Linked DNA regions of Homo sapiens. The protein of the gene in region 1 purifies or fractionates together with the protein of each later gene. This does not show direct contact. Each region holds a gene or a part of one and is shown in the gene's direction. Other genes may lie near its edges.

Region 1 (2,601 bases):
AACAATGAAAATCTTCAGCAGAAATAGAAATGGCCGTGGATTGTAATACACACTGAAATTCTGACTTTCTGAATTTAAATGTAGAATAAATTTTACCAACTTGGAGTACTGTATGAGTATTTTCAGTAGGGGGAATAAACTCAAAATTATATTTGTTTTGCAGAAACCTAGTCATTTGAAATGAGCCATCCTATTAAGCCCTCTTTTGTCTCCATTATGTTCCAGAGGCAGTATATGCAGTGCAATAATTTTTTCATTCCACTTATGTTTTGAAAGCCAGCGGCATCAGATGTGTGAGTTGAGCTATTCCTCCTGGCAGAATTGTCCAATCTAAAAATCAGCGTTTACCAGCCCATGCTAATAAAATTAAGATTTCATACAAGTTTCTGTAAAACTATTCTTCATGATTAGCTCTCCCTGTGGGCTGCAGCAGTCAGAAAGAGATAACAGCCACACCTCTGCATTCCCCGGTCACCAGGAATAAAAGGAAATGTTCCAGATTGTAAGTGGTTTTAAAAACTCAGTTCTCATCGTTTGCAATCTAAGTTGAAAGAACTATTAAATATAAAATCAAAGGTGGGCAATGTGGCCAAGTCAATGGAAGAGGCTTTACTCAGAATAACTTACAAATTCTAGAAACAAGGTAGAACTCACTCAGTTTACCTAATAATAATTGAATTTAAGACCAAATATCACAGTTGAAATAACTTCCCTGGATACATTCTATCATTTTGTAGCTTTCCTAAGAATTTCTTGCTTTATCATTCCTGATTAATCACTGTTTTTACATTATTAAAGGTGGCAATTTTCTGTAAAAAATTTAAAACAGATGATCCTATTCTGTCTTGAAAGTTCTGTACCACACTGACCTTAACCTTGCTTATAACATAACAATTGGTAAACTTTTAATTCATAATCTTTATACCCTAAGATAGTATTTATTAAATTTTTATGGGTCATGAAGAAACTAGACCCTCTCCCCAGAAAAATCTACATACACAGAATTTACATAGAACTTGGGTTCATCTACACAATTTATGCATGAAATAAAATTGTACTGGTACCCTATAAATTTATACAAATAAAAGAGTTTAAGGGAGTTCAAGGATGCCATATGTATATTTTAAAAAAATTTCTAAGGGAAGTCTAAAAAACATAAATTATAATATTACCCAAAATAAGATGCTACTTTTCACCTAACCAAGTCCTGCCTCATTTCACACTTTAACCTCCTAAGTATATTCATAACCCTACCAAAAGTTGTTTTCTTTAAAAAATAAGAAACTTTAGGGCCAGCGCAATGGTGCAAGCCTGTAATCCCTGCACTTTGGGAGGCCGAGGCAGGTGAATCCTTTAAGGTCAGGAGTTCGAGACCAGCCTGGCCAACATGGTGAGACACACTCCCCCACCCCCGCCCAGTCTCTAGTAAAAATGCAAAAATTAGCCGGGCGTGGTGGCGTGCACCTGTAATCCCAGCTACTCGGGAGGCTGAGGTAAGAGAATCACTTGAACTGAGGAGGCAGAGATTGCAGTGAGCCGAGATCCTGCCACTGCACTTCAGCCTGGGCAACAGAGTGAGACTCTGACCAAAAAAGAAATTTTGCAGCTCCAAGGCTTGAAGTCATTTATGTTGCCAGGGGTAAGAGCTTGGTTGAAGGGCTAAAAGACTAGAAACTACTGAAGATGCCCTTCTTACTGTCAGTAAAGCTGCTGGAGACAAAAGAAGTTGTTCTCGCTGCTAGAGTGGTAATTTGAGAATCATCAGTATTCCTATGTGACAATCCAAAATTACTGGTTTTCATTTGACTTGTAAATGACACCCATCATCCATCTGCCCACAAACCTGGCCAAATGTGATACAACCTGAAAACCTGATGGACTAAAGGAGTACTATTTAACAATTGATTGCCTTTGCACTTTATTCAGGTTGTTTCTTAAATTTTGGTAGACAGATCCATTTGTATATGTGTGTGTTATATCTAGTTTATGGCTATAGAGAAGGTTTAAAATACTACAGTGTCCTTCCCTCAAGGTTAAATTAGAAGCTGCCTGCCTTTTAGTTGTTTCTTGCCTTTAATAAAATGTTATCAGTTCCCCCAGATTTCCTGGCACTGTGTTCTTCTTCCACTTGACATAGTCAGGCATCTTAGCAACAGTATAGTACCCCAACCTAATGATCCCTGAATGTGTATATGTGTTTCAAACTCCATTTTTCTTATTTTTTAATTGTAATCTCACAACATTACCATTTTTCTTTTTATTTTTATTTTTAAGTTCTGAGGTACATATGCAGGATGTGCAGGTTTGTTTCATAGGTAAATGTGTGCCATGATGGTTTGCTGCACCTATCAATCAACCCATCACCTGGGTGTTAAGCCCAGCATGCATTAGCTATTTTTGCTAATGCTCTCCCTCCCTCTACCCTACCCACTGCCAGGCCCCAGTGTGTGTTGTTCCCCTCCCTATGTTCATGTGTTCTCATTGTTCAGCTCCCACTTATAAGTGAGAACATGCAGTATTTGGTTTTCTGTTCCTGCGTTAGTTTGCTGAGGATAATGGTTTCCAGCTCCATCCATGTCCCTGCAGAGGACTGTTGCTTTT
Region 2 (3,500 bases), on another chromosome or scaffold:
ATGGCCTTCTTAAAAGGACACCAGTCTCAGATTTTGGAGCACCCTGATCCAGTATGATCTCATCTTAATTAGTTATATCTGAAAGACTCAAATATTTCCAAATAAGGCCCATTCATAGATACCAGAGGTTGAGACTTCAACATATCTTGTTCAACGTATCAAATTGTGAGTTGACACAGTTCAGACTGCAACTTGGCCATATGTATTAACCAATTAAATTTTTCTCATATTGCCAAATATGTATTAAAAATAGAAGTTAACTCAAAACTTGGGTAGCAGGAAATAACTTTTGTCTTCATTTTTCTTTGGAGAATTAAACTTAACTGAGCAGACTATAAAAAGTTCATGAATTCTGTATTTTAATTTTGGTAAAGCATTTAATAGTCTCATTATATTCAGATGGATACAATGATGAAATATAGGCTGTGTGACTTTACTTACAGTGAGTGTTGATAATGTCTGTGTTCCAACCTGAAAGGGAGTCTCTTATGTCTTAGGAAGTTTTTCAAAATACAGTCACCCCTCCATATCTGTGGATTCTGCATCTGTGGACTCAACCAGTTGCAGATTGAAAATATTCAAGAAGGAAAAATTGCATGCCTACTGAACAAGTATTGTGTCTGTACTGAATACTTACAGACTTCTTTCTTTTCATTATTTCCTAAACAGTACAACTATTTACATAGCATTTACATTATATTAGGTTTTATAAGTAGTCTAAAGATCATTTAAAGTATACAAGAGGATGTGCATAGGTTATATGCAAAAACTACACCATTTTATGTCAGTGACTTGAGCATCTGAGAATTTTGATATCCAAGGGAGGTCCTGGAACCAATACCCCATGGATACTGAGGGACAACTGTCTTGTCTTAGCTCCAGCTGTTATCAGTGACTTTCTGGAGTTTATTTATGTTTGTTTTGTTTTTTAATATTCAAGACAGTTTAAGGAGAGACATCAAAGAAAACAGACATAGTACTGGAGATTGTCAAGGTATGAATAGCAGCACCAACCAGTGGGCAAAGGAATCTTGTGTAACGGCTTCTAACTAGATTTTGTGGACCAATACAAGAAAATGTATATCTATTTGAGAGGGGCGGGCCGTGTGGACAGGGAAAAGGGCTGGGTATAAAAACTGACCTAGAATTACATTTTTTAATTTTGCTGAATAAAGACATCCAAAAACAAAACAACCTCTGTTATATCTGTTTTTATCATTTCATAAAGGAAAGGCTGTTTTGACAAAATGGAATAAAATAATCTCAGAATAAAGGACACATTTTAAAATGGAATAAATTTAGCTTTAAAAGTTCTTTTCTACGTTGTCCATGACTAGAAAATTTTGTCACAGAATAGCAATGACTTCTGGCAAGCATTGATGATCTGAGGTATTTCCAAACACATTTTTGAAAATGGCTTACCACACTGAGTAGAGAGGCAAATAGAGTGGGAATGGAGCAATGAAATTGGGTATCTGGTAGGATTTAAAGGATTTGAGAACACCAGTGAAAATGAAGAGCAGATTTATCTTAGGAAAGAGCTTGAAGGGTAGTTCCTACTTGGGGAGGTAAATGTGTTTTGGATTTTAGAGGTGGAACAGTTTTAAGGGTTGACCTTGCTCATGGGTGGCTTTCCATAGAATTAAGATGGAGGTCACAGGAGGAGAAGCGCTGTTAAGCTTACATGGTAAAAAGGTTTTATTGTGAATGAATGCTATAGGATAAATGCCATCAGAGCATGAATTCCAAAGGATGATAATGGAGTGGGGGAGAAGCATATTGAATGATCTGGGTGCTGAAGTCATTAAGCAAATTATGAATATATTCAGATGTTAGTGGAATATAGCAACAAGTACGGAAGTGAGAATCAGTGTGTACTGTGGTTTGGAGCATAGTTTCAAGTTCTACCACCTGCTATGTAGCCTGGGAAAATTATTTGACAGTTCTGTGCCTCATTTCCTCATCAAAAAGTAGGATTAAAAATAGTACCTGCTGCTTCATAGAGTCATTTACAAGATTAAATGAATTAATGTTTAAAGAGCTTCAAATAATACATAGCACAAAACATGAGAGATGGTTGAGAAATATGGTAAAACATGATACTTCTGTAACCTGTGAGTCTCAGAAATGACTAAGGATTGGAATGGAACTGCTGCCAATAGAAAGTCAGGTTTTATAAAGAGAGCAGACAGCAATTTCTTTTAGAAAAGCTAGAAGTTATTGGATACCTTGTTTATGCCAGACAGTGACTTTTACAGTAGGTTGGCAAGTATGCAAAATGGAATGAATTTCTTGGAGGTAGGTTAGTGCTGAGCTTTCAGGAATGGGACTGGTGGAGTAGCTGAGGGGCGAGGTGCTCCATTCTAGAGTGATATCCCCTGGAAAACAGGGATGGAGGAAGCTAGAGATGGGTAGGGAGCCACATGATATATTCCAGCTAGACTTTCAAGGGAGGAGTGTTGAATAGGTTGTATGTATTATTAGGAGATTTGTAAAACTAACTGCTTGCCGTATCTTTATGCTTATATATAAATTAAAAGAGCATTTAGAAAGCTCATTATACAAATATAACATTTATATAAACTTTTAGAAATGTAATTCACTGTTTTATTCATTTGTTTAACAGTGCTATACTGACTATGTGATGGCCACTGTTCTAGGTCCTGGGACAGTAGACAACAGGAAAATCCTTCTTGTGGATCTTATTTTTATATATTTACTTACCTAAGTATGACATACTGCTGTGATTTGAAAGATGTGCTACTGTGGTGTTTCTGGGAAAATTTCCTTCCTTCCTTTTCTCAATAAATATTGAATACCTGTTCGCTAGGCATTGGAGATACAAAGATCAAGTTAGACATGGTTCCTGCTCTAACAATCCGGTGGAGGAAACAGAAAAAGAGGCAATTAGAAATAGTGTGATAAAGGTACAACGTTCTAGAAGCAGATAGACTTTGAAGGCCATGGAAAGTTTTTTTGTTCCCCCTGCTTGCTCAAGGTAGAGATGAGTAGACTGGACCTTGAAGAGTAAGTAGGAGTTAGTCAAATGTAGAGATGCGGTAGGGGGAAGAAAAAATATTTCTGGCAAAGAGAATAGGATATTTAAGGAATTGAAAGTGATTTAATATGGTTGGAACGTAGACTGTGAGTGATTGGGTTTGAAGAGAGGTTAGCAGGACCTGGTTTTTGAAGGGCTTTGTAAAACATGTTAGGATAGAATCCAAGCTCTTAAGTGTAGTGGGAAGGGAAGTTTTACAAAGATTTGAAGAGAAATATCAGATTTATGTATTAAAAAGATAATTTATTATTACAGTATAGAGAGAGAATTGGAAGGTTGAAGATTAGAGGTTGTTGAAGCAATGTAGTGATAGATTGTGGCAGTTGGGACTAGGAACATACTTGGACATAAGGAATTTCTCAGTAGGCCTGAAGAAGAGAAGACAGGCAGATTTAAGAGAAATTTAGAAATAGCTTAAGTCTAAAGATATAACCCATGTTTC
Region 3 (3,500 bases), on another chromosome or scaffold:
ATTAATTTGGAGGGCAGCATTGTTATCCTCTTGATTCCTACTGAGCACATAATATCAACTTAAGCCTATAAGTCTTTTCACACATAGGTAGGCATGACTTATCTGTGCTGTACTTTTACAGTTGTTCTTTTAGACTCAAATGCAGGATCCTGAATTTATCCCCATTAGGTTGATCTTGTTAGATTCAACCTGTTGAAGTATTTTTGGTTCATGGTTGGATCATCTGGCACATTTGTTCTCCTGCCCAGCTTCTTGTCACCTGCAAATTTGGTAAATATGTTTTCTTTTCTCCATCTTAGTTATTAACAAAGATGTTGAGACAGGCCAAGCTGTAATCATTTCATTGTACCATTACTATTGCTGGTAGATTTTAATTGGCAAGATCAATTGTGTATGGATATAGAATTGTCAGGTTGGATTAACTATTCCATAATTATAACAGGAATTGTCTTTTAGGTGAGTAATCCTATTGTAGCTGCTTAATAAGCTATTTAATGAGAAACAATAAAAATTATAGTCTGCCAGGCATGGTGCCTCACACCTGTAATCCCCACACTTCGGGAGGCTAAAGTGGGAGGAAGTCTTGAGCCCAGGAGTTTGAGATCTGCTTGCACAGCAAATTGAGACCCCCGTCTCTACAAAAAAATAAAAAATTAGCTGGGCGTGGTGGTGCACACCTGTAATCTCAGCTACACAGGAGGCTGAGGCAGGAGGCTCCCTTAAGCCCGGGAGGTTGAGGCTACAGTGAGCTGTGTTTGTGCCACTGCATTCCGGCCTGGGTGACAGAATGAGACCCTGTCTCAAAAAGGAGAAAACAAGCACTTTGGGAGGCTGAGGCGGGTGGATCACAGGTCAGGAGATTGAGACCATCCTGGCTAACACAGTGAAACCCCATATCTATTAAAAATACAAAAACATTAGCTGGGTGTGGTGGCAGGCGCCTGTAGTCCCAGCTGCTTGGGAGGCTGAAGCAGGAGAATGGCAAGAACCCGGGAGGCAGAGCTTGTAGTGAGCCGAGATGGCGCCACTGCACTCCAGCCTGGGTGACAGAGCGAGACTCCGTCTCAAAAAACAAAACAAAACAAAACAAAACAAAACAAAAAAGAATGAACTATGGTCATGCATGAAATGAGGAACTAGTTTGAAAAGTTGGGGACCCTGCTTATATTCCTATATATAATAAAATATAATTCTTGTATGTTTAGATTATGTGAGGTCTTGATTATTCAGAAAGCCCTCTGGACTGACTAGAGGCAAATGTGGTATAGGGGAAAAGGTCCTAAACTTGGCCCTAACCATAGGTGTTTGTTCATTTATTTATTCAGCAAGTGTATATTGAGTGCCTACTGTACTTAAGCCCTGGAAATAAAATGTTGACAAAAACCAGATTTGATCTTTATCTTCAGTAGAGCTTACCTTCTAGTGGGGGAAACAATTGGATAATTACACAAATGTAATCATAATACTTTCTGTGATCTGTGTTCTGGACAGGTGTTGTCCAACAGAAATATAACGCAAGCCATGTATGTAATTTAAAATTTTCTAGTATCTACATTTGAAAAAGTAAAAAGAAACAAATTTTAATAGATTGTATGTAACCCAGTATATCTGAAATATTATTTCAACATGAAAGCAGTATTAAAAATTGAGATATTTTATATTCTTTTTCTTCAACTAAATCTTTGAAATCTTAAACTTGTGCCACATCTCAGCTTTGACTAGCTGTATTTAAAATGCTCAATAGCCACAGGGGAGCCACTGTATTGGACAGCACAGTTCTATACCCAGTTTTACGGATATAAAACTGGTGTTGGGCAAATTACTTTCCGTCTTTAGGACTCCTGCTTTCATCAGTAAAATGAAGGATTCAGACTTGTTTGTCTTCTAACAAAAAAATGTGGTTCCCTCCAGGTATGAGGGAGCCTTCAGAGGTGCCCTAAATAATCTGTATCTCGATCTGGGTGGTGCTTGTGTGGGTGTATGTATAATACATAAAAATTTATCAGGCAGTACACTTAAGATTTATACACTTAATAGTATCTTTGTTATATCTCAGTAAAAGTTTAAAAAAAAAAAGTTCACTTCCAGTTTGATTTGGTGCCCTTTGCTAAACTCACTCTTAGATGAGGAGACCTTCAGTGGAAATGTGTGATGTGAAAAATGCAAACAGCCAAGACTTTTTTTGTCTTCTTCCCACCCAGGATGTGTCTAGTCCGAATGAAGCAGGAAGGCCGGAGTGGGAAGTACATGTGTCGTATCATAGTTCATTTTATGTGGGAGGATGTTCAGCAGCGCGGCAGAGTCATGGGGGTAAGTGAGTGCTGTCAGATGCTTGTCCTGGACAATTCCAGAGAAGGGTTTGAGTTTGGAGTTTTATCTGTTGTAAAATGGCCCTGCTTTTAGATTTCTGTGAAATGCTGCCTAATATCAAGTGGCAGTTCCGCTAAAGTCACTTTTTCTGCCTCTGTGGAAACTAATACTCCACAGATACTTTATGTGTTTGTACACATTATAGTGATTTGTCAGTGTGAAGTCATCCTGTATGGAGATGGGATTGTAAAGCCCAAATCGTGGTGATAGGAGGGATGGATTTGGTGAATGGAGGGAATCAAATGATAATCCAGTTAAGGATACTATACCTTTGACACCAGTTCAATATTTGAACCAGTCCTTCTATAAATTAGTTCTGATGGGAGGCCCTGGTATGGGGCCTGCACTGTCTTCAGGAACTGAAACTCAAGCTCCTTGATCACTGGCAACCTAGAAGAGTCTGGTAAGATACCTCCTGAAAATGTACATTAGTACATTTAATAATTAACCTGAGAAAGGGGAATATATTATATATATATATATGTCACATGGGATGTAATGACAATAGAAAAATGAAACCAAAACACTAGAATATAGCTGGTTATACAGATCATAGTGTGTCCGGAGTTGGTTCCTTGTGGTGGGTTCTTGGTCTCGCGACTTCAAGAATGAAGCCGCAGACCTTCGCTGTGAGTGTTACAGCTCTTAAAGATGGTGTGTCCGGAGTTTCTTCCTTCCAGTGGGTTCGTGGTCTCGCTGACTTCAAGAATGAAGCCGCAGACCTTCACAGCAAGTGTTACCAGCTCTTAAAGGTGGTGCGGACCCAAAGAGTGAGCAGCAGCAAGATTTATGGTGAAGACCGAAAGAACAAAGCTTCCACAGTGTGGAAGGGGGACCTGAGCGGGTTGCCACTGCTGGCTAGGGTGGCCAGCTTTTATTCCCTTATTTGTCCCTGCCCATGTCTGCTGATTGGTCCATTTTACAGAGTGCTGATTGGTGCGTTTTTACAGAGTGCTGATTGGTGCATTTACAATCCTGTAGCTAGACACAGAGCGCTGATTGGTGCGTTTTTACAGAATGCTGATTGGTGCATTTACAATCCTCTAGCTAGACACAGAGCACTGATTGGTGCAAGTATCCACCCGACCCAGAAGCCCAGCTGGCTTCACCTCCCACTAGTATCTTCTTTT
Region 4 (3,500 bases), on another chromosome or scaffold:
GTGGCACAGGGAGAGCATGAGCAGGGTGCACCCTCTCTTCACCTTCTTGGCCAACCGCCTTGTTGCACTCTCTCTGAACAGCACTAAACGTGTGGATCATTCCAACACCCGCCTGGTCACACAGCTGGACAGGAACCCTGGTGTGTACCCAGCCATCCAAGGGGCTTTAGGGCAGGGCCTCCCTGGGGAGGGAGCCTCGCTAACTTGTCACTTTGTCCATTTGCCCGTCTGTTCTGGGTCTTAGGCGCTGATGACAACAACCTCAACTCCATCTTCTATGAGCACTTGACACGTTCGCTGCAGCACACACTGTGTGGGGACCTGGTGCTGGGCCGCTGGGGCAACTATGGCCCTGGTGACTGCTTCGTCCTGGCCTCTGACTACCTCAACGCCCTGGTGCACCTCATCGAGGTTGGCAATGGCCTCGTCACCTTCCAGCTGCGTGGCCTTGAGTTCCGGGGTGAGCCGCAGGACCAGGCTCGGGTGGGCAGGCACAGCTCGGGCCTGATGTGGGAGCTGTGTTCAATAGCACGTGCGAAGGAGGTCCAGTCCAGCTCTGTCCAGGCTGGCGGGTGGCCTTGGGCAAGGCACTCCTCCTCCCTGGGCCTGCGTTTCCCAGTCTGAGCAATGAGGTGGCAGGGTCTCTTGGCCAAGCCCTGTGCCTGCCCCAACTTTAGGTCCCAGTGACTCTACAGGTCACTGCAGTGAGGGCCTGGGCCTGGAGGTCTGAGTTCTCACACCCAGCCTGCTCTGTGGTCTCAGGCTTGGCCCATGGGTTGGGCGCCATGAGTGAGCCAGCTCCTTCCTCTCAGGAAGACGTGTGTGTTGGATGCCCGAGAGTGCAGAGGGGCCAGACCGTGTCCCTGCTCCCTCCCGCCCTGCCCTTGGATGCTGGGAGTTGGGAGGAGAAAGGCAGGCGCTCTTTCGTGAATCTTGGCATCCAATAAGGTTGACTCCCCTGGCGTCCAAGGGGGTGAATGGCAGCAGGCCTCTGATGCCATGTTGGTCACTCTCCCAGGACAGGGCAGGTAGGGATTGTTCTAGCAGCCCCTGACTGCACACCCCTCCTCCACAGGCACTTACTGCCAGCAGCGCGAGGTGGAGGCTATCACCGAGGGTGTGGAGGAGGACGAGGGCTGTTGCTGCTGTGAACCTGGCCACCTGCCACGGGTCCTGTCCTTCAATGCTGCCTTTGGGCAGCGCTGGCTGGCTTGGGAGGTAACAGCCAGCAAGTACGTGCTGGAGGGCTATAGCATTAGTGACAATAATGCTGCCTCCATGCTGCAGGTTTTCGACCTCCGCAAGATCCTCATCACCTACTATGTCAAGGTACGGTGGGCAGGTGTGGCCGGGCAGCAGGGCCCTTGCGGGTGAGCGCTCGCTGACCAGAGGCCCCAGTACCCCCTTTCTGGGTTGTTGGGAGCCTGTTTTGTCCAAGGGAAGCTGAGGCCTCAGAGAGTTTAAGTGTCCCCTGAGGTGCCACTGCCAGACCTCAGGTTGCAGGGGCCTCTGTGCCCATATGGCTCTGATAGGTGCCCAGGCAAGGAAGGCTTGCTTTGGGCAGTGAGTATGGGGCAGGTGGGCAGTTGCAGAGGCCAGCCTTTGAAACCACCAGCCCCTGCCCCCAGCTCACCCAGCACAGAGCAGTGGTAGAGCTAACAGTTGTCACGTTAACGATCATCATGGGAGCAGCTGCTTGAGCAGTAACATTTACCACGGGTGGGCGCTATGCTGGGCATCTCTCCTGAGCTGGGTGGAGTCCCCCACCCTTTGAGAGGGGCCCTGCTATCTCACAGATGTGGAAGTTGGCTTGCAGAGGTTCCAGAATCTGAAGAAAATGGCCAAGCCAGGCCTTGAACCCAGGCTGGCCCTGAGCCACAGAGCTTTCCTGCCTTAGCCTGGGGGCTCTGAGCCAGGCCTGAGGATCTTGAGACCTCTTGGGGGTGGGAGGGGGTTGGTGAGGCAATGTGGGGTACATAAGGAGCCCTGGAATGGGGGTTCTGATCAGCCTGGAATGTTTCTTCCCTGTGTCCCTCAGCTTACCCCTTGAGAAGTGGGGGTTATTGCAGTTCTCTGAGATGGCAGAAATGTTGAGGCTTGGCCAAGCGTGGTGGCTCATGCCTGTAATCCCAGCACTTTGGGAGGCCAAGGCAGGTGGATCACTTGAGGTCAAGAGTTTGAGACTAGCCTGGCCAATGTGGCGAAACCCCATCTCTACTAAAAATACAAAATAATTAGCCGGGTGTGATGGCGGGCACCTGTAGTCCCAGCTACTTGGGACGCTGAGACAGGAGAATCACTTGAACCTGGGAGGCAGAGGTTGCAGCCAGCCGAGATCGTGCTACTGCACTCCAGCCTGGGCAACAGAGCAAGACTGTCTCAAAAAAAAAAAAGGAATTTTGAGGCTTGTGGTGCTCAGAATAAGCGTACTGGGAGTGGGGTGGCCTGCTGATCACAGTGCAGGCTCCCACGTGCCTTCTTAGGATCTACCCTGGTGCTCCCTATGTTGGGCTCGGTGGGTGGCCTACTGGGGCCCAGGTGAGCCTGCCACCTAGGTTCTCTCTGGAGTAGTTTCACGAGGCCCTGGCTGTCCTTCTCCAAAGGAAATCCTGTCCACACCACATATCAGAGGAGCTGTCATTTGTCATTCCTTCTGCCCTCCCAGCCACTCCTAGGCAAGGATTTGTGAGACCACCCCCCTTTCATCAAGAAGGAGGCTGTGTCTAGAGAGGGACATTCCCAGTCCCAGGTCACCGAGAGGTCATGGCCTGGTCCACCTTCCGGTCCCATCTTGAGAGAGGTGCCCTTGCCCAGGTTGCCCTGCTGTGCCTGCTAGGCTAGGGCCAGCAGGTTGAGATGCACCTGGCCAGGTCTCTTGTCCCATGGGGAAGCTGACTGGCCACATCTAAGGCTGCCTCAAAGGCTGGGCAGAATTTGAGTCTGGAGGAAGTGCTTGGAGGACCTGGGGTGGCTCCGCTGAGGATGTGGACTGAGGGTGAAGCTTGGAAGGACAAGTCAGGGCTGCCAGGGGTGGGGCGGGGGGAGGCGGGTGTGCTGGGGAGCCTGGTGCATCTGGGGAAGTGTCCCAGCTGCAGGGATAGGTCCTTTCCAGCCTTCGAGGTTGGCCAGTCGAGGCGGAGCCCCTCCCGTTAGCTTTGCCCTTCCCGTGGGAGTTACTGGGCTCTCAGACCTGCTTCTGCAGCTGGGAAGGGCTACAAGAGCAGGAAAAGGCACCGTGGCTTGAGGCTGCACGGAGTCTGGGCAGTGCTTCCCGGGAAGTACCTTGGGCAGAGCCCAGCTCGCAGTGAGCGCTCACAGGCGGAGCGGCTGCTGGTATTGCCCCCCGTCTTCATTTTCTTCCTAAGATGACCGTGAGTGTTGTGTCAGAGAAAAGGATGGCACTGGTGAAGGTTAACCAAGCACCTGATATGTGCCAGGCCAGCTCCTCTCCCGGTCCCTGAAGCTTTTCTTTTTTTTATTTTTTTTTGAAACAAGGTCTC
Region 5 (3,500 bases), on another chromosome or scaffold:
CAGATTCTGTGAACACAACCATTTGTTACAGATGATGTGCAAAAGCTTAAAGCACAGTGAACTGAACAGATTTGGAAGTGATGCCGAGTTTACAAATAAAAGGGACCCTGTGGCCTTTAAAGATACATGAATTCACAATTTAAAGAGACACCAAGCTCCACCCAGTGAAACCACAGGGGACATCTGTAAGGGTGGTGACAACGCCCAAATCGTGTGGCACCATTACAGGCCTACTGGGCATCCATTGGCTCTAGGTTTAGATTCTCCAGCATCTGGTTCTTCATGTCAGCCTTTTTTATTGACACCTCCACCCCACCCCCTTTTTATTCCCATCTTCTGTCTTATTTTGGCTTACGCAAAACATTGCAAAAGCGCTCCTCACGTTCAGTAGCAGGGGGACTGTGGCGATTAAATTCACATTAGGCTTCTGTGGTAGTGAGAGAAGTGCCTGGATCATGTAGGAGTTCATACAAGAAAGATACTTCTCCTACAACAGACACACACACACACACACACACACACACCCCTAGGGTTAGGAACAGGCTGTGCTTGCTCTGAAGGTCTGGGCCCATCACAGGAGTTGAAAACAGTCTCTCCCGGGATGTGGATTCTAGGGAAGAAAAGAGGGAGATCATCGGAACCATTATGGCTCGGGGGCCTGATGAGGTCCTGACGTAGCAGTTTTGGGGTGGCTGCAGAGCTGGCAGATGGGCTGTGTGTGAGCCTGGTGGAGGTCAGCTCTAGAACCTAAGTCATTGGAGCCCTAAAAGAGGGACCTTTCTGTGGGCTCAGCACAGAGGACTCTGTTCTCCCTGAGGGCGGTGAGAGGCGGCCTTGTGGCTAGACCAGCAGCAGCATCACCAACTCTGGGGTATCAGCTTCAGTGAGGGCCCCATGGGGCAGATGCAGGCAGCGGCGGCAGCAGCAAATCCTTACACACCCATTCTCTCCTAGGGAGCAGGGGTCAGGTGAACTCCCCATTTTGGGCCGTGTAGCCTGCCAGGGGAGAGGGGCTTCCCCAAGAGAGATACTGGACCGCCTGGGTCTAGTGGGTGGGGGGCAGGAGGTGATTTTAAGTTAACCTCCAGAAATAAGCTCATTATCCAATCATGCAGTGAAAGCACTGTGGAGCAATTCATAGAATTGCCCACTGGAATTTCGAGGAAGAATGGTTCAATATTCCAGAATTTGCCCTCACATCTGAGGCTTCCTAGAATGCAAGGCGTTCAGCAGGCCTGTAATGTTTCACCCTGAGAGTCCGGATCCCGCTGGGACTCCAAGTGGACGATCTCATCGCTACCTCCAGCTCCTCCTGTCTACAGACTTCCTTGCTGGAATGTGTTCTTGTTGTTGAAGGCTGTATTCTCTCCAGTCCTCACTAGGAATCTTGGATAACAAGGGGGTTATCCCAGAAGGCAGCCTCTGCACATTGCAGAGGAAATTTAATGTGATCTATGGCTTGAGAAACTGAACTGAAAAACAGGAAAGGCAGGCTGGGCGCAGTGGCTCACGCCTGTAATCCCAGCACTTTGGGAGGCCGAGGCAGGCAGATCACGAGGTCAGGAGTTTGAGACCAGCCTGACCAACATGGTGAAACTCTGTCCCTACTAAAAATACAAAAATTAGGTGGGTGTGGTGGCGCCTGCCTGTAATCTCAGCTACTCAGGAGGCTGAGGCAGGAGAATTGCTTGAACCTGGGAGGCGGAGGTTGCAGTGAGCCAAGATCGCGCCACTGCACTCCAGCCCAGGTGACAGTGTGAGACTCTGTCTCAAAAAAAAAGAAAAGCTGAAAAGGCTGGGAAGTTCTCAAAAAAGTGATTCTGACCCAGTGGTTGCAAATAAATGTTTTAATATTTCAAGAAGCCTCCCATCCCCAGCCCCAGAAATTGTACATTTGCCTGTGAAAGGTGGCAGAGGCTCACTGAAGTTGTATTTCTTTACTTCTGACTGGACTTGTTGGGTCGGGGTCACACTTGGGGCCCCAGGCTTCCCTGCAATGGTGGTCACTCACGTCCCTTCCCGTTCCCCTCTCTTCCCAGTTCTTGGTTCAGCTGATGGTGTTCCTGATCAGCTTCATAAGCTCCGTGTTCTGTGGCCACCTGGGCAAGCTGGAGCTGGATGCAGTCACGCTGGCAATCGCGGTACGTGTGGGCTTTCTGGCAGGTTTACCAACACTGTCTGTGTTTGCCTTCTGCTGCTACTATAACAAATCATCAAAATGTAGTGGCTGAAACCTACACAGACTTATTCTCTTACAGTGCTGGAGTGCAGAAGTCTGAAGTGGGTTTCATGGCCTAAAATCAAGGTGCTGCAACTTTAATTCCCCTTTGCTGTGTAACCTTGCAGATTCCTAGGTTCTGGGGATTGGGCTGGGGACATCTGGGGGGGCATTATCCTGTCTATCACATCTTCTCATTTATTTTATTTTATTTTATTTTGTTGTTTTTTTTTTTTTTGAGATGAAGTCTCGCGCTGTTACCCAGGCTGGAGTGCAATGGTGCGATCTCGGCTCACTGCAACCTCTGCCTCCCAGGTTCAAGCGATTCTCCTGCCTCAGACTCCTGAGTAGCTGGGGTTACAGGCGTGCGCCACCACACTTGGTTAATATTTGTATTTTTAGTAGAGATGGGGTTTCACCATGTTGCCCAGGCTGGTCTCAAAGTCCTGAGTTCAAGCAATCCACCTGCCTTGGCCTCCGAAAGTGCTGGGATTACAGGTATGAGCCACCGTGCCCAGCCTCACATCATCTTATTTCTTTTCTTTTTTTTTTTTTTCAGACGGAGTCTTGCTCCGTCACCCAGGCTGGAGTGCAGTGGTGTAATCTCGGCTCACTGCAACCTCCGATTCCTGGGTTCAAGCAATTCTCCTGTCTCAGCCTCCTGAGTAGCTGGTACTACAGGTGCCTGCCACCATGTCTGGCTAATTTTTGTATTTTTAGTAGAGACGGGGTTTCACCATGTTGGTCAGGCTGGTCTTGAACTCTTGACCTCAGGTGATCCACCCGCCTCGGCCTCCCAAAGTGCTGGGATTACAGGTGTGAGCCACTGCGCCCGGCCTACATCATCTTATTTCTAATCCATGGAACTCGTTCCCACTCTTGGTCCCACAGTTGGGGGAGGGGAACAGTAAAAGGGGAGTTCAGTCTGACTTCCTCAGAGGAACTGACTCCCCCCCATGCCCACTCCTCAGTTGTCTGTCTTACTGAGAGTCCTAATCTAGAAATGGGTCTGGAAGGTAAAAATCTAGATCTTTGTGTCCAAACTTAAAATTGGGAGGAACTGCAAATCCTCTCTGTATAATAGATGCAAACCCCCAAAACCAGAGACATGTCATCAATCTCAGCCAGGAATTGTCAGCTGGCCATGTAAGAACAAAGGGTTTGGTTTGTCTAGTTAGGTTGTTTCTAGAAAAGTGGATTCAGTGGCTCTCGGGCAGGTGTATGTTCCCCTTTCCTCCTGCCCTGACGGAGACACAATTTCACTTGATCTGCCTGGTCTCGC
Region 6 (4,015 bases), on another chromosome or scaffold:
TTTGGGGTAAAAATAGCAGAGTCAGTTGCTGAGGACAATGACCTTCCTTATAACATTTAGTTTCATACCCATATTAGGTCTTGTCTTGAGGACCCTTTATATGTGCTTGTTTACTAGTGGCCTTCCAGCCATAGCATTCTTACCTTTTTTTCCTATTCTAAGAATTAAAAAAAAAAATTATAGAGCCAGCAAGGGAGGAGGCAGGAAACAGAAATCGAATTTCATCATTCCAGTATAGTTGTCCCTTTTTTTGTATTTCTGACTTGGTTTTATAATTATATTTACTTACTAATTATTGTTTTTTAACATTCTTTATTGTGGCTTACTCTTCATACTTAGAATTGAAATTGTTGGACATCACATGTATATTCACATTATAAATACATCATTCTTCCACTGTTAGACCTTTAGATTGCTTCCAGTTTTTAATATTCTAAATAAGACTTTCAACATTTTCTGTGTTTTAGCTCATTCTCTTAGGACATTCTTAGAAGTTAGAAACATTTCTGCTGGGATCGTTGGAGGGAACTTCAAACTTTGGAATCTTTCCTGCAAGAAATTCTTTACCAAAGAAAGGCAGGTGTTTCTTAAAGGGATGCAAAAGATATTTTGCACTTTGTATGTTCCAAAACATTTAGTAAGTTAACTAAAAAAATGAGTTAATTTGGTTTCTTGGGGGATTTTAATTTTTTAATTTGTTTTCTGGTTATGTAAAAAAAATGTTTTTTTTTTGCTTCTTATCACAATCCTTTTGTTTCCTTTTTAATCCTTTAATAACACCTTCAAATTTTATAAGACTTTGGCTTATTTCCTATATAATTCTTTTTTTCTTATACCACCTCTTAAGATTGATATGTTCATTTGCAGGTAAGCATTAATTATTAGATAAAGAGGGATGATTCTCAAGATTGTGTGTGTTCTGAACAGAGGGAACTACATGACATTTTCTTCTGTAATTGCCTTTGTAACGTCTTTAGAATGTGGTTCCTAAATATTCCTGGATAAATTCTCTTGATAGGCCCATTGGAAAGGCTAATACTCCCACCCAGTGCTTTGTTCCTTCCTGGCAAAAGAATTCCTAAAACCACTGATTTTAGTTACTGACTTCTCACCATCTGGACTCTTACAAGATGTTTCAGAAGTTGTGTAGAACTTGTCTTTCAGTTGACTTGTGGCTGAATTTACTGTTACTTCTCTAATATCAGTTGTTTTCTGCATTACCACCCTCTCCCCTAACCATCTGTACTATGAATGGAAAAGGAAAAAGATGGAAAAATTATACCTAGGATTGTCCCTAAATGCAACCTCTTGGTTCCCCCCACCCCTCATGTTTTATTATAAACGATTTTAAGAGCTGGGCATGGTGGTTCATGCCTATAATCCCAATGCTTTGGGAAGCTGAGGCAGGAGGATCACTTGAGGACAGGAGTTTGAGACCAGCCTGGACAACATAGTGAGACCCCCATCTGTACAAAAAAAAAAGTGCTACTTGGGAAGCTGAAGTGGGAGGACCACTTGAGCCCAGGAATTCGAGGAGGTTATAGTGAACTATGATTGTGCCACTGCACTCCAGCCTGGGTGACAGAGCAACACCTTGCCTCTAAAACAAACAGCTCCAACTATTTTATTTTTTTATTTTTCTGAGACAAGATGTTGCTTTGTCACCCAGGCTGGAGTGCAGTAGTATAAACATGGCTCACTGCAGCCGAACTCCCAGGCTCAAGTGATCCTTCCTCCTCAGCCTCCCAAGTAGCTGGGACCACAGGTATTTGCCACCATGCCTGGCTAATCTTTATTTTTTGTAGAGACGAGGTCTTGCTATGTTGCAAGAGGGAGATCACTTAAGTGATCTTCCCTCATTGGCTTCCCAAAGTGTTGGGATTCCAGGCGTGAGCCACTGCACCCCGCCTGACCTAACTATTTTAAACACTACTCATATTGCCATCATCTAAATTCAACAACAATTTGCCATATTTGCTTTATGTATATGTATAATTATATATTTATAAAATTTTTTGAACCATGTGAAGTTGCAAACATCATTGAACTTCACCACTAAATATATCAGCATGCATCTCCTAAAAATCAGGTATTTTCTTACAAAACCATAATTCTGCTATCTATTATGATTTAACATTCTGTCATTTTCAAATTTCTTCAGGTGTTTTTTGTTACATCTTAAAGAACAGACGTTCTTGGATCTCAAAGATTCCGAGGAAGGAAAGAACATGGTGGATAATCCATAATTAAGAAGTTTGAATCTTTTCCTAGTCTTAAAAACAAAGTGAGAACTAAAGGGGTTTACCTTCCATCAAAGTTGAACAAATTAATTCTTTTGTGTGTCATACTTTCTGTCTCTCTCCCTAAAAACATGGGGGTGGTAATCTCTTTGTTTTATCTGGTAGGTTTTCCAGATAAAAGATTATACAGGTTTGGAATCTTAATATCCAACCCCCAACTCCAAGCCCTGCCCCAACAACAACAGCTAATTATTTTACATCTTGATGATGGTAAATTTTTCATGATTAACCAATTTTGGGCACCTATTCCGCCATATATGGTTTTATTTAATTTTCACAGCAACACTTCAAAGTTGATATTCATATTCTAAATTTATAGATGAACGAAGAGGCTCAAAGATTAAACAACTTGCTAATAAGTGATTTTTACCCATGCTTTTTCCATTATATTATGTTTTGGATTTTTCCAGAGTACCCAAACCCAGCAGATGCATACTGCTCCAAAATAAATGGAACTCAATACTGGCTCTGTCAAGTGTCTCTTGCCAATCAATTGTCCTTCTAATCTTTTGAGGGGCAGTTCTCTCAGTTGTACCAAGTCACTGTCATCCCCAAACTTTTCAATGATTCCAGGCCTTTAACAACTCCCCTCCACCTCCAAACCCTCTCTCACCAAATTGTGTAATTTCTTTGTTTACTGCTGGCTTCATCATGCACTTTTCCTTCATAGCCTATTTTAAGAAGTTGATTTGCTGAACTGCTTTTTAGCCAAGCTATTTGTAAATCAAGCTACACAAAGTATGTGGCCATAATTTCCAAAAGGCAAATGATCATTGTTCAATTGCTGTTGCTCTGCAGTGTGCATTCATGCAGTTAAAAATTGTACTGCATTGATAGTACGGCATCAGAGAATAGATCACTTAGGTTCAAATCCCAGTGCATGATCCTGAGCAAGATTATCATATCTAGATACATTAGTTTTTATCTGTGAAATGGGAATGATAGCACAATCTTCATAGAATTGTTGGTAAGGATTAAGTGAGTTGATATGCTCAAAGTGTGCATGCTGGCATAGAACAAGTCACTGTTTACAAGCCTTTAAAGAAGGAGCTGTTCTGGCACTGTAAACTTGAACCTTTTTTCCCCAAATCTAATGGATATAGGCAAGGAAATTATATTTATATAAAATAAATGTTTGACTACCTTTGATCATAAACTTTATTCTCATCTTGACCTGTTCCTTTGAAAAGATAATAAATACTGATATGTGAAAAATGTATGGACAGATTATTCAGATGTCTGGTTGAGGCTTTACAGTTTTGTATATTTCTGTCAGACATTAAGCTGACTCTAAGCAGTGGAGGTTTGGTTTATGCCCCTAAATTACACAGCACTTCTTTTCTCCATTGTATCGAGGGGTCATTCAGGGGTTGCTGTTCTGGAGATGGAAGCACATGTCTCCTGCCTGGGTCAGAAGCGTCACAATAGCACAAGCATTTATTCAGCACTGGCCTAGGAGAACCATTCATTTAGTCAAAACAAGCATTTATATTCATTATCCTGAACAAAAACCAGACTAAATGAGAACATTTATAGCTGCTCAGGCACTCTGCTAATTGCTATGTCTGCTAGACAAAGTGAAATGACACTTACAGTGACTATTTAAAAATAATTTGGAGCATGAATATTTGAAGCTCAGTTCTTTTTACAAAGGAAATGTATAACCTTTGCTCTTCATTTTTTTTGGCAGTTATTTATAGATCCAGGCCCTGTGT
Region 7 (3,500 bases), on another chromosome or scaffold:
CCTCCCGACAGGTCTTTGGCAAAGGGAACACGGCGTTCTGGATCGTCTTCTCCATCATTCACATCATCGCCACCCTGCTCCTCAGCACGCAGCTCTATTACATGGGCCGGTGGAAACTGGGTAAGGGCACGCCCGGGGCAGGGCCTGGGGGAGGGGTCTGGGGGGCCTTGGGAACCCGGACGCACGGGAGACGCTCAGGTTCTGTCTTGGGGGCCCTGGAGTCACTGGGTGAGGAATTAGATCAGGCCTGGGCTCCTCAGCTGGCACATCCCAGGGGTCCAGCAAAGGAGGGTGCCCCGTGCCTGTCAGCACCACTCCCTTCTCTTCGCAGACTCGGGGATCTTCCGCCGCATCCTCCACGTGCTCTACACAGACTGCATCCGGCAGTGCAGCGGGCCGCTCTACGTGGTACCTGCCTGGTTCCCCTGCTCCATTCTCCACATCTCCTTTCTTCCCTCTGATGGGGGAGTGGGGCTGGGCTGAGGACCCAGGGGAGAGTGGGGACCAGCTGGCTGGGCCTTCTTCCACCACCCTCCCTGCCCCTGCCCTCAGTCCCTGTGTCCCTGCTTCCCTCCAGGACCGCATGGTGCTGCTGGTCATGGGCAACGTCATCAACTGGTCGCTGTGAGTATGGTCAGCAGTAGTGGCCTGGTTGGGTGGACAGCTGGGGACTCGGTCAGCCACTGGCTGCCTTGGGGGCTAAGGACAACTTCCAAATGTTGGGCATAAGACATGGGGGCTAAGAGAGATCTTGGCCTCTCTTCTCTCTCTTGGCATCTGGGCTTCTAGAATCTTCTGTGGGCTTCTGAACACAGCCCAACATCATAATAAAACATGCCTAGGCAGGGCAGGAAGAGCACTTCCTTGCCCTTGGGCTTCCTGCTTCACCACCCTTCATCCCTCTTGCCAGGGCTGCCTATGGGCTTATCATGCGCCCCAATGATTTCGCTTCCTACTTGTTGGCCATTGGCATCTGCAACCTGCTCCTTTACTTCGCCTTCTACATCATCATGAAGGTGAGTGGGGCTGGCCAAGCCCCCTCTGTCAGCTGCTCTGCTATCTGGGGAGAGAGATGGGCCCGGCAGCATTGAGGGGCAGTGAGAAGTTTTCTGTCCCATCTTTGCTGGTTGCGGAGGGGAGAGGCTAAAGCCTCTTGCATGGGCCCCTGGGAGCCAACTGCAGCCCAAAGACCATTTACTGAGCCCCTTCCAAGGGCCCTTGAAACAGGTGGCATTTTAGGCTGCAGTTGTAAGTGCCCCTTTCCATGCAGAAGGGGCTGAGGGGAGGTAGGGTGTGGGCCTCTCAGGATCAGGTGCTTCCCCAGAAACCATCCTGCCTTCCACTCTGATTGGAGCCCCCTGCATAGGGAGCGCCTTGAGGCCAGTGCACTGTCCCGACACAGGGTTCTGGATACATGGAGGCTGGGTGGGGTGGACATCGGGGTGGGGGCAGGTTGAGCTCTGTGGTTGTGCGGAATGGTATGAATCCAAGGAGCAGTCCTGAAGGCCTGGGAGGCCATGAGGAAAGGGAATCTGGGAAAGGCTGGGTGGGACAGCGGGGTGGGACAGGGGTAAGCCCTCAGACTGCTGTCCCTGCCTGGCCCCTCCCAGCTCCGGAGTGGGGAGAGGATCAAGCTCATCCCCCTGCTCTGCATCGTTTGCACCTCCGTGGTCTGGGGCTTCGCGCTCTTCTTCTTCTTCCAGGGACTCAGCACCTGGCAGGTGAGCACTCACCCTCAGGCTCCTTGTGAGCCAACAAGTGGCCAGTCCTCTTTTTAAACATTGGGGCTGAGCCTGGGATTACCTGTAATCCCAGCACTTTGGGAAGCTGAGGCAGGAGGATCACTTGAGGCGTTCAAGACCAGCCTGGGCAATATAGTAAGAACCCGTCTCTACAAAAAATAAAAAAATAAAAATAAAAAAATTAGCCTGGCGTGGTGGTATTCACCAGTAGTCCTAGCTACCTCGGAAGCGGAGGCAAGAAGATAGCCTGTGCAGGAGTTCCAGGCTGCAGTGAGCCAAGATTGCACCATTGCACTCTAGCCTGGACGATAGGCCATGTCTCTAAAAAAAAAATTTTAAACATCATTTGGGAACACCTACCATAGGCCAGCACTTTCATAGCGGCTTCCCCAGTTAATCCTCCTAGCATTCCAGCCTGGAGATAGCTCCAGTTTACTTACGAGACAGATGAGGCTCAGAGAGGCCAAGTGACTTCCCCAGGGCACATAGCCAGTGAGTGGCACAGCTGGCATTTGAAGCCAGCAAGGCTTGGCTCTCTTCTCTGCCTTGCAGGACACCTACCACATGTCAGGCTTTAATTCTGGGAATAGAACTAAGTCTGACATGGTCTCTGAGGGACTCATAAACTAGCCGAAGAGGGCTAGAAGGACTGTTGGTGCATGACTGTTAGTGCTGTTTACGATGTGATACATGAAATGAAGGGCACAGGCAAGACGGGGCAGGAGGACAGAGGACTAACGGGTCTCTCCGAGTTAGGAGTCCAGGAAAGCTTCCTGGAAAAAGTGCGCCTTGTTCTGGGCTATAAAAGTCTTGGGTGAGGAGGGCTGGGCACGGTGGCTCACGCCTGTAATCCCAGCACTTTGGGAGGCCGAAGCGGGTGGATCACGAGGTCAAGAGATTGAGACCATCCTGGCCAACATGGTGAAACCCCATCTCTAGTAAAAATACAAAAGTTAGCTGGGCGTGATGGTGGGCGCCTGTAGTCCCAGCTACTCGGGAGGCAGAGGCAGGAGAACGGCTTGGACCCGGGAGGTGGAGGTTGCAGTGAGCTGAGATCTCTCCACTGCACTCCAGCCTGTCAACAGAGCAAGACTCTGTCTCAAAAAAAAAAAAAAAAAAAAAAAAAAAAAGTCTTGGGTAATGGAGAAGAGCCCCATGGCCCAGACCTACTGTGACCTTAGTAATGATACAGGGGCAGATTTGGAGGTCAGTGAATGCACTCATTTGGGAGCCAGGCAGACTGTGAGCTCCCTGAGGGTGGGGCAGGTCTTGGTTATGTCTGTGGCCTCAGCATGTAGCACAGACAGACACAGCCTGGATGAGCTTATGGGATAGAGCTTATGAGTAGAGCAGGGAGGACCTTGAGTGCCACAGGTTATGGCTACTGTCCCGGAGCAGGTGTGTAACCTGACAGTAGTGCTTTGGAAAAAACAATGAGCCTGCAGAAAGATTAGAGCAAGGGCGGAGTCCAAGGCCGGGAAGTGGGTGAGAAGGCCTTCTGCCATCTCTGAGCTGAAGGCCTTCAAGGTTGTTGCAACCCTGTGCTCTTAGGTCAAGGGAAGAGAATCAGAAGGAAGGAGGAGGGTAAGAGTGAAAGAAAAGGGAAGAGAAGCCAGTGAACTCAGGGAGAAGTTTGTAACCAAAGGCCATTTGTTAGATCGGGAAGGGGTAGGGACAAGGACAAGGGACAGGTCAGAATTGCTGCTGTCCTGCCTGGGGCTGGAGAGAGGGGTGCCCAGGAGCAAGATGGCAGATGGG

The links.
Region 2: the proteins of TM2D2 (region 1) and ERGIC2 purify together in Homo sapiens (affinity purification with mass spectrometry; 2 studies listed by BioGRID and IntAct, with this or other methods). This does not show direct contact.
Region 3: the proteins of TM2D2 (region 1) and UQCC1 purify together in Homo sapiens (affinity purification with mass spectrometry; 2 studies listed by BioGRID and IntAct, with this or other methods). This does not show direct contact.
Region 4: the proteins of TM2D2 (region 1) and PCNX3 purify together in Homo sapiens (affinity purification with mass spectrometry; 2 studies listed by BioGRID and IntAct, with this or other methods). This does not show direct contact.
Region 5: the proteins of TM2D2 (region 1) and SLC47A1 purify together in Homo sapiens (affinity purification with mass spectrometry; one large-scale study listed by BioGRID and IntAct). This does not show direct contact.
Region 6: the proteins of TM2D2 (region 1) and PIGM purify together in Homo sapiens (affinity purification with mass spectrometry; 2 studies listed by BioGRID and IntAct, with this or other methods). This does not show direct contact.
Region 7: the proteins of TM2D2 (region 1) and SIDT2 purify together in Homo sapiens (affinity purification with mass spectrometry; 2 studies listed by BioGRID and IntAct, with this or other methods). This does not show direct contact.

What each region holds. Positions count from the first base shown.
Region 1 is NC_000008.11:38,988,308-38,990,908, reverse strand, and holds the end of TM2D2 (TM2 domain-containing protein 2 isoform a precursor), read left to right. Parts: 3' UTR 1-2,101; downstream 2,102-2,601.
Region 2 is NC_000012.12:29,374,673-29,378,172, reverse strand, and holds part of ERGIC2 (endoplasmic reticulum-Golgi intermediate compartment protein 2), read left to right. Parts: intron 1-3,500. UniProt on the Homo sapiens protein: Possible role in transport between endoplasmic reticulum and Golgi.
Region 3 is NC_000020.11:35,345,974-35,349,473, reverse strand, and holds part of UQCC1 (ubiquinol-cytochrome c reductase complex assembly factor 1), read left to right. Parts: intron 1-2,201; coding exon 2,202-2,310; intron 2,311-3,500. UniProt on the Homo sapiens protein: Required for the assembly of the ubiquinol-cytochrome c reductase complex (mitochondrial respiratory chain complex III or cytochrome b-c1 complex). Involved in cytochrome b translation and/or stability.
Region 4 is NC_000011.10:65,629,276-65,632,775, forward strand, and holds part of PCNX3 (pecanex-like protein 3), read left to right. Parts: intron 1-81; coding exon 82-140; intron 141-244; coding exon 245-460; intron 461-1,075; coding exon 1,076-1,329; intron 1,330-3,500.
Region 5 is NC_000017.11:19,540,354-19,543,853, forward strand, and holds part of SLC47A1 (multidrug and toxin extrusion protein 1), read left to right. Parts: intron 1-2,039; coding exon 2,040-2,141; intron 2,142-3,500.
Region 6 is NC_000001.11:160,024,453-160,028,467, reverse strand, and holds the end of PIGM (GPI alpha-1,4-mannosyltransferase I, catalytic subunit), read left to right. Parts: 3' UTR 1-3,515; downstream 3,516-4,015.
Region 7 is NC_000011.10:117,192,243-117,195,742, forward strand, and holds part of SIDT2 (SID1 transmembrane family member 2 precursor), read left to right. Parts: intron 1-11; coding exon 12-120; intron 121-331; coding exon 332-408; intron 409-577; coding exon 578-624; intron 625-910; coding exon 911-1,016; intron 1,017-1,610; coding exon 1,611-1,721; intron 1,722-3,370; exon of another isoform or gene 3,371-3,500.